3 linked regions of the Homo sapiens genome follow. The protein of the gene in region 3 purifies or fractionates together with the protein of the main gene of each other region. This does not show direct contact. Each region holds a gene or a part of one and is shown on either strand. Other genes may lie near its edges.

Region 1 (3,649 bases), on a different chromosome or scaffold from region 3:
TCAAAACACTTTCTTAGAAACAGCATACTCTATAATTTCTAAGGCAGAAACACGCAAATAAAAAAAATATAATATTAAAGATGGAAGGGAACTTAGAAATAACTTAGTGCAACTTCTTTGTTTTATAGAACACCTACGTCCAGGAAGTTTGTGTCTGGTTCACAGGCACAGAGCCAGACCTATAACCTCAAACACCCCAGGCCAGCCCAGTGGTCATTCTACTACACTAAGTTGCCTCTCATAAGTCATACTGAATTTTAAAACATAGTATCATATTAATAAAGATTTTTAAGGAAGGGAAAGAAACTCAACATTGATAGGATCACACTGAATTGGGGAACAACCAGTGTTTCTCAAAGGCATTCTGTGTGTAAATGCATCTTCATTGGGTTGAATTTTCCTGCACACTGCAGGATTTTAGCATTCTGATCCATGACCACAAAAATGGCAGGAGCACTTCTAAGTCATTGTGACAACCCAAATGCCATCACATTTCCAAATAACCTATAGAGGGGCAGAGAGAACTCTGTGAAGAACTGGATCTGTAGGCCAACCTTGTTTAGAACCCTAGTACCACTATCTTAGTCAATTCAGGTGCTATAGCAGAATACCACAGACTGGGTGGCTTAAACAATATTTCTCACAGTTCTGGAGACTGGGAAAGAAGTCCAAGATCAAGGGGCTGGCAGATTCGAGTCTGGTAAAGGCACTCTTCCTGGTTTCCAGAAGGCCTTCTTCTCACTGCACCCTCTCGTGGTGGAAAGAAAGTCAGAGAGCTCTCTGGGGCCTCTTTTGTAAGGGTGCGAATCTCATTCATGAGAACTCACCTTCATGACTTAATTAGGTCCCAAGGTCCCCACCGCCTAATACCATCACATTGGGGGTTAGGATTTCCACATATGAATTTTGGGGGGACACAAACATTCAGTTCATAAAAAACACTTTTAGTGACAGTTATCTCAATTACATATTTTTTAAAAATCTAAGAAAACTCAGTTTTTTCAGGGATAAGCTTGCAAAAGTCAAACTTTGACAGCAATGGATACACACATCCCCTTCTAATTTGGGAGACTTTATTTTATTAAGCTATTTGCATTTCTTATATAGTCTTAGAATGCCAGCAACATGTTCAAACGTACAATACATCTGTACCTACATAAGGTAGAGGTCATGAAAAAAGAATTTAATTTGAACATATTAACTAAAGCAACCACTTAGCGTGCTCAAAAGCCATTAATCTTCAATTTAAAAAATTAAGGTATGTGCATATGCACACATTTGCATCTGTGTGTAACTATTTTAAAATACTTACAAGATCCAGTGCTGAACCACCGCCCAGGTATTCCATTATTATCCATAATTTAGACCCCTGTAAAGCCATGAAACAATTTAATAATTACAAACCTGAGCCAAAATAACATACTAGCAAAAATGTTAAATCTCACATACTAAAGCACAGATTCTATTTGCATGTTCTCATTTATTTGTGGGAGCTAAAAATTAAAACAATTGAACCCTTGGAGATAGAGAATAGAAGGATGGTTACCAGATGCTGGGAAGGATAGTAGGGAGGGGGAGTTGGTGATGGTTAATGGGTACAAAAAGTAGTTAGAGAAAATGAGTAAGATCTAGTATTTGATAGCACAACAGGGTGACTATAGTCAATAATAATTTAATTATACTTTTAAAAATAAGTAGAAAAGTATTACCGGACTGTTTGTAACACAGAGAGTAAATGTACCCTGATGTGATCATTATACATTATATGCCTTTATTAAAATAGCTCATGTACCCCCATAAATATTTACACCTTCTTTGTAGCCACAAAAATTAAAAATTAAAAAAATAAAGAACAGATTCTAAAATGTAGGTTTAAAAATGGTTGCTTGGGAACCCCGAATATATTTTTTCCATAGAACATTCCAAATTAAAATTCTGAGCTTAGACTACCCGCATACCTTTTTGCCTATGATATAGCTAAACAAATAAAAGTACTGTTTGTTATTGTTGAACTATTAGTAATTTTTATAAAAAACAAAGCTTTAAATAATTATCTTGAATGATATTGGAAAGAAAAGATAGTTACATTAAAGAATGAGGAGGTAAATGAGGGCTTGTAGAAATTTTGGGTTTGAGTTTGAGGACAATGGATATTTTGCCTTATTTCAGTTGTTGGCTTTCATTTGTTTTGATGTACTTCAAACTTTTATCAGCTACGGTTAATGGGCATTTTTGGCACACACGGAACCTAGAAAGAATATTGTTCATTTTACCTCTGATGTAAATGGATAAGAAAAAGGGAGAGTGTAGCTTTAAAAATCTGTGCTTTCTCCAGGTGGAATTAACTTCCCTGTGAGCTGAACAAGAGGAAATGGGGCTCCTGGGAGGAATATATGTATACAAATTCTAAAACAGGTGTACACACACACATACCATTCAGTACCATCAGTTAAACACTGGAATAAACCATTAAACCCTTTTTATTTTAGCTATAGCTTAAATACAAGGGACACCTCTCTCTCCATACCATTTCATGAGTGGTATTCTCTGAATTTTTGTGGGACCAAAGAGCTGACTGGAAGTAGAATGGTTGGCTTTACTATACTGGCAGCAGCCAAGTAGTGACTGGACTGTGTTCCAAAAGTTGGTTTTTAAGTAAGATGTTCAGAATTTTAAAAGCAAGCATTTTCCCATAAAAATAATGTCTAAGTTCCTGGGGTAGTCCTCCCAAAAGACAATTTCACACAAATGTATTCATTCGTAGTATAGCATAAAAAGTACCAGAGAAACTCACTACTATTTATATCTTAACAATATTTCAAGTAGGAAAATATATTCAGCATGGTGCCTCAACTTGGGATGCCAGAAACACATTTCTCACCTTTACAACCCCAGCTGCGGGGTGAAGATTCTCAAGCTACTGCCAGTAGCCCTCAAACTCAAAAATCCCTGGGAGGTATTCAGGAGTCCAATTTAAAATTTCCAGGCATCTCCATGAGGATGTGACTTTATCAAGGCAGAGAATGGAACCCAGTGACATGATGATGAGTGCTTAGGGGATGGGAGAGGGTTGAAGAATCAGAGTGGAACTGACATTGTAGTGTGGGGAATGGGATGTGGCCTAGGGTTAGCGATCATGAAGGGAGGGCTCAGTTAATTAAGACAAAATGATTCTCCTTTCCATATGCTGACACTATGTAGAATTTGTAAGAGAAAGGGAGGAACAATATTCCCCTACCACTTCCTCCACTAATCTTGACATCCACTCTGTCCTGACATAGATGGCCAGCAGGCACTGTGAGCAGAAAGCTGAGAGTCTTGGTTAGCAGTGAAGTCTACATTAGGAAATAGAGGAAATAAATTCCCACAATACTGGTGAGGGAAGAGGAGTTCCAGGAAAGGTTCATATAACTTGTATTTGTGTATAGAACCTAGGCACTCGCAACCTGAGAATTGTGACTCTGATGTACCTTTATACTTTTTTCAAGAGAAGAAAAAAGTGGTTCTTACAATGGTGGATAGGTTAAAAATTGTTTCTTCTGCCACAAGTTTGTTTCTAACAAGTACTATACTCTATCATATGAATTCAGAGAGCTTCCCATTCACCTGACATTTAAAAGAAAAAGATCTTATAAAACATGCCTGCCTA
Region 2 (3,649 bases), on a different chromosome or scaffold from region 3:
CTTGTGAAAATACAGAGGAGCTGGAGAGTTTTCATTACATTTTTACCCCACCGGCCTGTTCAGCGGCTTGACTGGCTCTTCCATCTTCTGCCTAGGTTGCTTCTTTGCGGTTGTGGTTGCCGAAATCCTTAAGTCCTGGCTGTGGGCGGGAGCTGCAGAGACTCTCTTACTTAGGGGCTTTCTTTAGCTTCTCAGTCTTTGCAGAAGATGATGTAAGTATAGTGGCTACTTGTACTTTGCTGCCCTTTTATTCAGATTCTTTCCCAAATGTGCATTATATGTTGACTGCATTTTTTCCTTCTCTTTCCAGGTTAAAGTGGTTGAAAAATACTTCTCAGGGCCTGCCATTACCCTGGAAAACACTCGTGTGGTTAGCCAATCATTGCAGCATTACTTAGAGCTCGGAAGGGTAAGTGTTCAGAAAACAAATCCAGAGGAAGTATCAAAGATGAGCTCCAGATACAGAGCTTTTATTTTGTAGACTGGACTATGCCCAGTAGACAAACGGCTAACAAAAGCCAATTCGATCTTACATAAAAAAGATAAACTATAAGTAAGTAGCCTGTGTCTTGAATAACAGGTTGTAACAACAGCAGTATGCTGCCTTTGTATGTAGCATCACTGGGAACTGGTCCTAAGCTTAGTGGCCCGGCTCCTCCTCCAGCTGGCCCTTAGGCATTTACACTGTGAGGGTGAGCAAGGATTGTTAGTTTGCACACACCCTCACTGACTTGCTTATCCCAAATGCAGATTAATATGTCTTCAATTCTCAAACTTAAAGGCAGAGAAGGGCCGGGTGTGATGGCTCATGCCTGTAATCCCAACACTTTGGGAGGCCGAGTGGGGTGGATCACCTGAGGTCAGGAGTTTGAGAACAGCCTGGCCAACATGACGAAACCCCGTCTCTACTAAAAATACAAAAATTAGCCAGGCATGGCAGCGCGTGCCTGTAATCCCAGCTACCTAGCTACTCGGGAGGCTGAGGCACAAGGATCACTTGAACCCAGGAGGTGGAGGTTGCAGTGAGCCAAGATCACGCCACTGCACATCAGCCTGGGCGACAGAGCAAGACTCCATCTCAAAAAAAAGAAACAGGCAAAGAAGTTACAGGCTTGGGTAACTAAGGTAATTTTGATCATGGGAAAGAAGTAACAAAGCCTATTTTATTAAAACTGTAACTGCCGGCTGGGCGTGTTGGCTAATGCCTGTAATCCCAACACTTTGGGAGGCTGAGATGGGCTGATCACGAGGTCAGGAAGTCATCCTGGCCAACATGGTGAAACCTCGTCACTGCTAAAAATACAAAAATTGGCCAAGGCAGGTGGATCACGAGGTCAGCAGTTTGAGACCAGCCTGACCAACATGGTGAAACCCCATCTCTACTAAAATACAAAAAAAATTAGCTGGGCATGGTGGCGGGTGCCTGTAATCCCAGCGACTTGGGAGGCTGAGGCAGGAGAATCGCTTGAAACCGGGAGGCGGAGGTTGCACTGAGCCGAGATGTGCCACTGCACTTTAGCCTGGGCAATAAGAGCAAAACTCCGTCTCAAAAAAAAAAACAACAAAAATGCAAAAACTAGCTGGGTGTGGCGGCGTGTGCCTGTAATCCCAACTACTCGGGAGGCTGAGGCAGGAGAATGGCTTGAACCTGGGAGGCGCAGGTTGCAGTGAGCTGAGATTGCACCACTGCACTCCAGCCTGGCAACAGAGCTAGACTCTGTCTCAAAAAAAAACAAAAAACTGTAACTGCCTACCTCCCCCACTCCATATTCTGCTTTCATGCTCATTACTTTGACATAGTTGGATGTGGATATTTCTTATATTCTTTCACTCAGGCTCTTCTAAAATGAGTAGAAGTGGGAGAGGAGAGAACGTGGGAAGTAGGCTAGCTGTTCGTGAAGTCAAAAAGGAATCATGTGCAAAATAGTTTTAATTTGTTTCTTCTTTTTAAAAATAAATTTCAGCAAGAGCTTTTTAAGATTCTGCATAGTATTTTGTTAAATGGCGAAACCCGTGAGGCTGCTCTCAGTTACATGGCGGCTGTCGTCAATGCCAATATGAAGAAAGCACAGATGCAGGTAGGATTCCTACAGACTGCTTTTCGCTGTTTGTCAAATTCATTCATCTGACCCAGATTTAGTCAGCACCTACCAGGCACTGTTCTAGGAGTGGGGGTACAGTATTGAACAAGGTAGACGAGCTTCCTGCTTTTGTGGAGCCCATGTTCCACAGAATAAACAAGTAGACATATAAATACATGATTTTAGACAGTTGTATAATCAGTGAAGAAAATAGAGCAAAGTAAATGACATGAGAAGAACTGTAGGTACCAGAAGGAAGATCTGAAGGTGATTTTTGATTGGGTGGCAGGAAAGGCCTCCCTGAGGAGGTGACATTTGTTTCATAGGAAGGAGCCAGCCATTGTAGTGGCTGAGAAAAGAGCTATCCAATGTGGAAACGAAGCAGCTTTGGTACAAGCCCAGCACGCAGGCTTTTGTGGCTGGAGAAGAGTGAACAGGAGGGAATGTCGGGTCCTGGAGTTAGTGGATAGGCAGGGCGCCATCGGGTTAGGTTTACGTGATCAGAACTGTCATGGGAGGGTTTTCAGCAGGGAAACCACAAAAGCTGCTATGTAGACGGACCAAAACAGAAGGGGGCAGCCAGGAACAGACCCAAGGGGGCAGCCAGGAACAGACCCAAGAAGGCAGCTGCAAGGGCGTGAGTGCTTCGGTCCGGGTGAGACAGGCCAGTGGCTGCAGCTGCTTTGCCAGAGGAGAAAAGGGCATCCTTCCTTGACTAGTAATAAATAATGAATGAATGATGTGATGTGTATACTCAGAAGCAAAAATCATGTAGAGAGAAGAGCACAGATCTTGTGATTTCTGATCGTGGTTCCACCGTTTACTAACTGCGGGACCTTAGACAGTGACTCCTCTGTGCCTCCATTTCCTCATCTGCTAAGCTGCGGTACTACTGGTACTGGGTTTATTATATATAAAGCTGTTAGAGTGGTGCCTGGTACACAGTGATCACTCAACCAATATTAACTATCATTCTTATCATTGTTGTATTATTATTTTTTTCTTAACAGAGGTAATCAAGTTACATTGTTATATTGCTAATGCAGGAGCATGCTGATGCTGTCACCTAGAGAAACAATGTCACATGATAAGAAGTGGAGCAACTTGTTTTGATGCTCTTGAGGGAAATAAAGAGGAGAAAGAGGCCGGGCATGGTGGCTCACGCCTGTAATCTCAGCACTTTGGGAGGCCGAGGTGGGAGGATCACTTGAGCCCAGGCATTTGAGACCAGCCCTGGCGACATAATGAGACCCCATCTCTACAAAATATACAAAAGTCATCTGGGCATGGTGGCTGGTGCATGCCTATAGTTTCAGCTACTTGGGAGGCTGAGGCAAGAGGATCACTTGAGCCAGGGAGGTCGAGACCAGCCTGGGCAACATAGGGAGACCCTGTCTCTACAAAAAAAATAAAAAATTAGCCAGTATAGTGGCATAGACCTGTAGACCCAGTTATTCAGGAGGCTGAAGTGGGAGGATCACTTAAGCCCGGGAGGTTGAGGCTGCAGTGAGCTATGTTTGCACCACTGCACTACAGCCTGGGCAACAGAGTAAAACCCTGTCTCAAAA
Region 3 (4,283 bases):
CAGAGGAGCTTTCAAGCATGAAAGGAGCCTATGGGAGGGAGCAAAGGCACCAAAAGATCCCTCCCTCCCCCCAGGCACCCACAGGAAGAACCAGCAGGCCATGAGGTCCCACACCACCCATTCTGTAGTGTGGTTCCTTGAGAGATCAGGGCCACAGAAGACTTAGAAGCGCCTGAGCAGCTTGCCAGGAAGCAGCTAGGGACAGGTCTGACCCCTACATCCTGATGCTATTTCTTCTGGTTAGTGGAAATCCCTTCACCAACACCCTCCCAGTCTCTAAGACCCTTTCTTCAGACTCTCCCCTTCTCTGCCACTGCAGCTGGAGGTAAGATGTGGGGAAGAAAGGCTAGTCTTTTCTTAAATAAATCCCAGCTTTGGCTCAGTCCCCCTCCTGACAGTTGTTGGAACCCTCAGGTGGAGACCACCAAGGACTCTGGGGCACCAGGGACTAGAGGACAAGGTGACAGAAGGCATAAGGTACAGGCTACAGGCAGCTCTGGAAATGCCATGGTGGGAGGGGAGTCCCAGTGCCATCCTGCCCTCCCCTTCCCCCGCTCCACACTCACCATGCAGACAAATATGGCTGAGCTGGTCCACAAGTTCCAACAGGTTCATGACCTTCAAGCCCTTGAGGACAACTTTCACAGCCTCCTTTTCTCCATACTTTGAAATCAGTAATTCTGCCAGGTCCACCGGAATCAGGCCCTCCAACTCCCCTCTGGCCAGTGGGGGCTGGCCCTCAGACAGGGTCATATCCCGTAAGTAGAACTTTAACTTCTTGAAATCGTTCTCCTCAAGGTCACTCAAGGCCCAGAGCAATGCCTCCCGGGGCTTTCTGGCCTTGGCCATGGCCATGGTGATCTGGGGGAAGGATCAAGTCCAGACCAGAAGACCAGTGACCTGGAGAAAGAGGCAAAAGGAGAGGTCCACTGCTGAGAGGCCCACCCTGCTTTCTGGGGGCTTGGCCAAGTTATAGAGCGGAGGCCAGGGAGAGACGAGATACATGTGCAAAGCTCCAAGAAAGACAAGCAGATGAAACGCAGGGGAATTTTCCTAGTCATTCCCCTCTGCCTCTTAGTCAGGTGACACGTGACTGTGTTGGCAAATGGGTAGGAAGGTATGTAGGTGTGTTAATCTCTCAATCTCTCTCTCTCTCCCCCAAACTCTATCTCTGTCTCTCTCTCTCCCCCCACTCCCTTCCTCTTTCCCTCTCAACACGTTCTTTATTAGGCTCTGTATGCCTCCTTAGACGGATGGATTAAGAAAAAAAAGTCTAAGTTTTTTATTTTATTTTTTTTGGAGACAGAGTCTACCTCTGTTGCCCAGGCTGGGGAGCAGTGGCATGATCTCGGCTCACCTCAACCTCCACATCCCACGTTCAAGCAATTCTCCTGCCTCAGCCTCCCAAGTAGCTGGAATTGCAGGTGCCCACCACCATGCCCAGCTCACTTTTGTATTTTTAGTAGAGATGGGGTTTCACCATACGGGCCCGGCTAGACTCGATCTCCTGACCTCAGGTGATCTGCCCGCCTTGGCTTCCCAAAGTGCTGGGATTACAGGCATGAGCTACTGTGCCCGGCCAAGTTTTAAGTTTTAAAAGTGAGACTGTCCCTGGCTGTGTGAACCTATAGAAAGCTGGAGCACATTTGCTGGAACTGCTGTGGTATGGCAAGAAGGTAAAAAAAATCTACACTCAACCCATTGGCCTCACATGTCAGCCTCCTGGCCTCAGTCACACAGGGATTGCAAAGCTAGAAGTCTCCTAATTCAAATAAGGAAACAAATCCAGATAATGATAGGAAGAGGAACCGCCACCTGTGAGTGCTGACTTTGTGCCAGGTGATTTACATATCCTTTTTGATCATCTCAGAAATCGTCTCAGGAACTGTTCCACATGAGAAATTTGGCAGTCAGAGAAAAATGGTTTTTCAGAGTTTTCCAGAGCTAGGCCACCGGGCAAAGAGGCAGGATTTAAACTGGTCTATGCCCTGGGTGGAAGAGAGAGACAGAAAAAACTCAAAAGATAAAGAAATAGAAGACAGAGTCAGGAACCAGAAAGTTAGGCTAAATGTTGCCAGAAGCTGGAGACATGTATAAATACTAAAGTAACGGGAAAGGAGAGCAGAGTTTTGAATTGTGTTTCTAATGTAGAACCAAAATGTAGGCCAGGTGGCAGTCTTTGGAAAAGAAAAGCAACAATTAATAGAAAGCCTTCAGAATCCAGAAATACACCTGTGACCTAAGGCCCATAGGGAACCCATCTCAGTAGTACAATGTCACATTCATCATTGAGAGTGTTCAAAAGAGAATTTGGGAACACAGAGAGTTGTTGCCATTCAAATACCAACATTTTGACTACATACTGACAGAGAAAGAAAATGTTTGGAACATGTTAGGATACAGGGGACTTTGGTTGTGAGTCATAGGCCAGTTTGGAAAAGCAGGCCTGTGAAAGCAGGATCAATTTACAACAAAGCTTCAGGCTGCATGGGAAGACTCAGGGCTTCCCTGCAAATTTCTGATGTTGGCAGAGCTATTTAATAATTCAGGAAAGAAAAGACAACACTAGAACCTGCCAAGAAGATGTCCAGTCTAGGCTGCTTACCACAGTTCAGACTTGGGGAGCTGGAGGTGAGGCAGCGAGAACTCAGCTCCCTGATCCAGGAGCCCAGTAAGCAAAGCCTGGGGACTGAGACGAAACAGATCCCCTTTCCTGGTCCGACAGCTCTACAGGTCCAAGTTTGGGCTCTCTTAGCCCATACTCACTAGTTCACTTCTGTTTGGTGGTGCTGGTACCTACCAGCTACAGCTTGATACCTAACAGTTCCTAGTATATAGGCCTGGAACAGAAGGGCCCCTCCCCATCTGCCCCAAGCCTCTGTGAAGCAGAACCACCCACTGAATGTCAGTGGGATGACTGTCAATGGGATGGGCAATTGCTCACCAGTGGGAAACTTGACCTCATTTTTTCAAATGTTGAAGTTGAGAAACAAGGGAGGGGTGGAAGGCATGAACTATTCTGTCACCAAGAGAAAAAGAGCCCAGGAGACTTCCCACATCCCTCCCTGGAACCCACACTCCTCCTCTACCACTTAACCCCAGCCTAGGCTGGGGCAGTTTGACTAGAGAGACGAAAGAATTGAAGCACTGCCACCACCATATCCTCCGCCAGTGCACCATTTCTCTAAGTTGTTGAAATCACTGGAGAATGAAAAAGGAAGAAGATAGGAGCTCCATGAAGTAGGAATTCAAACAAGGAGAAAAACAGGCCAGGCATGGTGGTTCACGCCTGTAATCCCAGCACTTTGGGAGGCTGAGGTGCGTGGATCATTTGATGTCAGGAGTTTGAGACCAGCCTGATCAACATGGTGAAACCCTGTCTCTACTAAAAATACGCAAATTAGCCGGGAATCATGGTGCATGCCTGTAATCTCAGCTACTAGGGAGGCTGAGGCAGGAAAATTGCTTGAACCCAGGAGGCGGAGGTTGCAGCGAGCTGAGATTGTGCCACTGCACTCCAACCTGGGCAACAAAGTAAGACTTTGTCTCAAAAAAACAAAAAAGAAAAAGGAGAAAAACAAATTCCCAGAAGGCAGCCAGTCCTCTGGCCTAGAGAGCTGAGGATCCCCAAGAGCCCTGACAGAAAGAGAACAGGTTTCTCCAAAAAGAATGTCTCCAAGAAAAAAGAAAAAAGACTTGCTAGACTAGCTGATGCTATTGGCCTTCTAAAACAGCCTATTGGGAGGCTATTAGAAGGTGGAAAAAGCTAGCAGTAACTTCCAAGAAAACCAGATAAATGAAAGTAAAATAAAGAAATTACTAGCAAGAGGAGAAACAAAAAATAAAATTGGAAATATAATAGTAAACTAATATACTCAAGTGTGAATAATGTTTGCATAGAAATCATAGTGTAACCACTGAACATTGCTCTAAAATTTAAAATATAATTACATTGAAAGGATGGTGGTGGAATGTACTAGAAGAGGAAGTTGATAGACAATGCCTAAAATGTTGAATCAAAAGATAGTGATATACAGTACACATATTACTTCAAAATGCAGAGATGTAAGAAGAAATAGTTAAAATCTAATGTATTAATAGTTGTTTTAGCGAAAAGAGACTGGGCATCAGGAGAGGAAAGGACTACTGTTCCAGGGCATAAGTTTTTTAATGCCTATTGACTTTAGAAATCATAACCATGTATTACTTTGAAAAGATAAAAATTAACTTAGCAAAGAAACAGTAAGAGGTAAAGAAATGGAGTTAACATGTATAGACAAATC

The links.
Region 1: the proteins of NLRP10 (region 3) and STK26 purify together in Homo sapiens (affinity purification with mass spectrometry; one large-scale study listed by BioGRID and IntAct). This does not show direct contact.
Region 2: the proteins of NLRP10 (region 3) and UBE4B purify together in Homo sapiens (affinity purification with mass spectrometry; one large-scale study listed by BioGRID and IntAct). This does not show direct contact.

Annotation. Positions count from the first base shown.
Region 1 is NC_000023.11:132,061,153-132,064,801, reverse strand, and holds part of STK26 (serine/threonine-protein kinase 26), read right to left. Parts: intron 1,370-3,649; coding exon 1,313-1,369; intron 1-1,312. UniProt on the Homo sapiens protein: Serine/threonine-protein kinase that acts as a mediator of cell growth. Modulates apoptosis. In association with STK24 negatively regulates Golgi reorientation in polarized cell migration upon RHO activation.
Region 2 is NC_000001.11:10,130,405-10,134,053, forward strand, and holds part of UBE4B (ubiquitin conjugation factor E4 B), read left to right. Parts: intron 1-95; coding exon 96-212; intron 213-310; coding exon 311-409; intron 410-1,964; coding exon 1,965-2,078; intron 2,079-3,649. UniProt on the Homo sapiens protein: Ubiquitin-protein ligase that probably functions as an E3 ligase in conjunction with specific E1 and E2 ligases. May also function as an E4 ligase mediating the assembly of polyubiquitin chains on substrates ubiquitinated by another E3 ubiquitin ligase.
Region 3 is NC_000011.10:7,962,641-7,966,923, forward strand, and holds the start of NLRP10 (NACHT, LRR and PYD domains-containing protein 10), read right to left. Parts: upstream 2,808-4,283; 5' UTR 2,606-2,807; intron 1,035-2,605; exon of another isoform or gene 901-1,034; 5' UTR 856-900; coding exon 567-855; intron 1-566.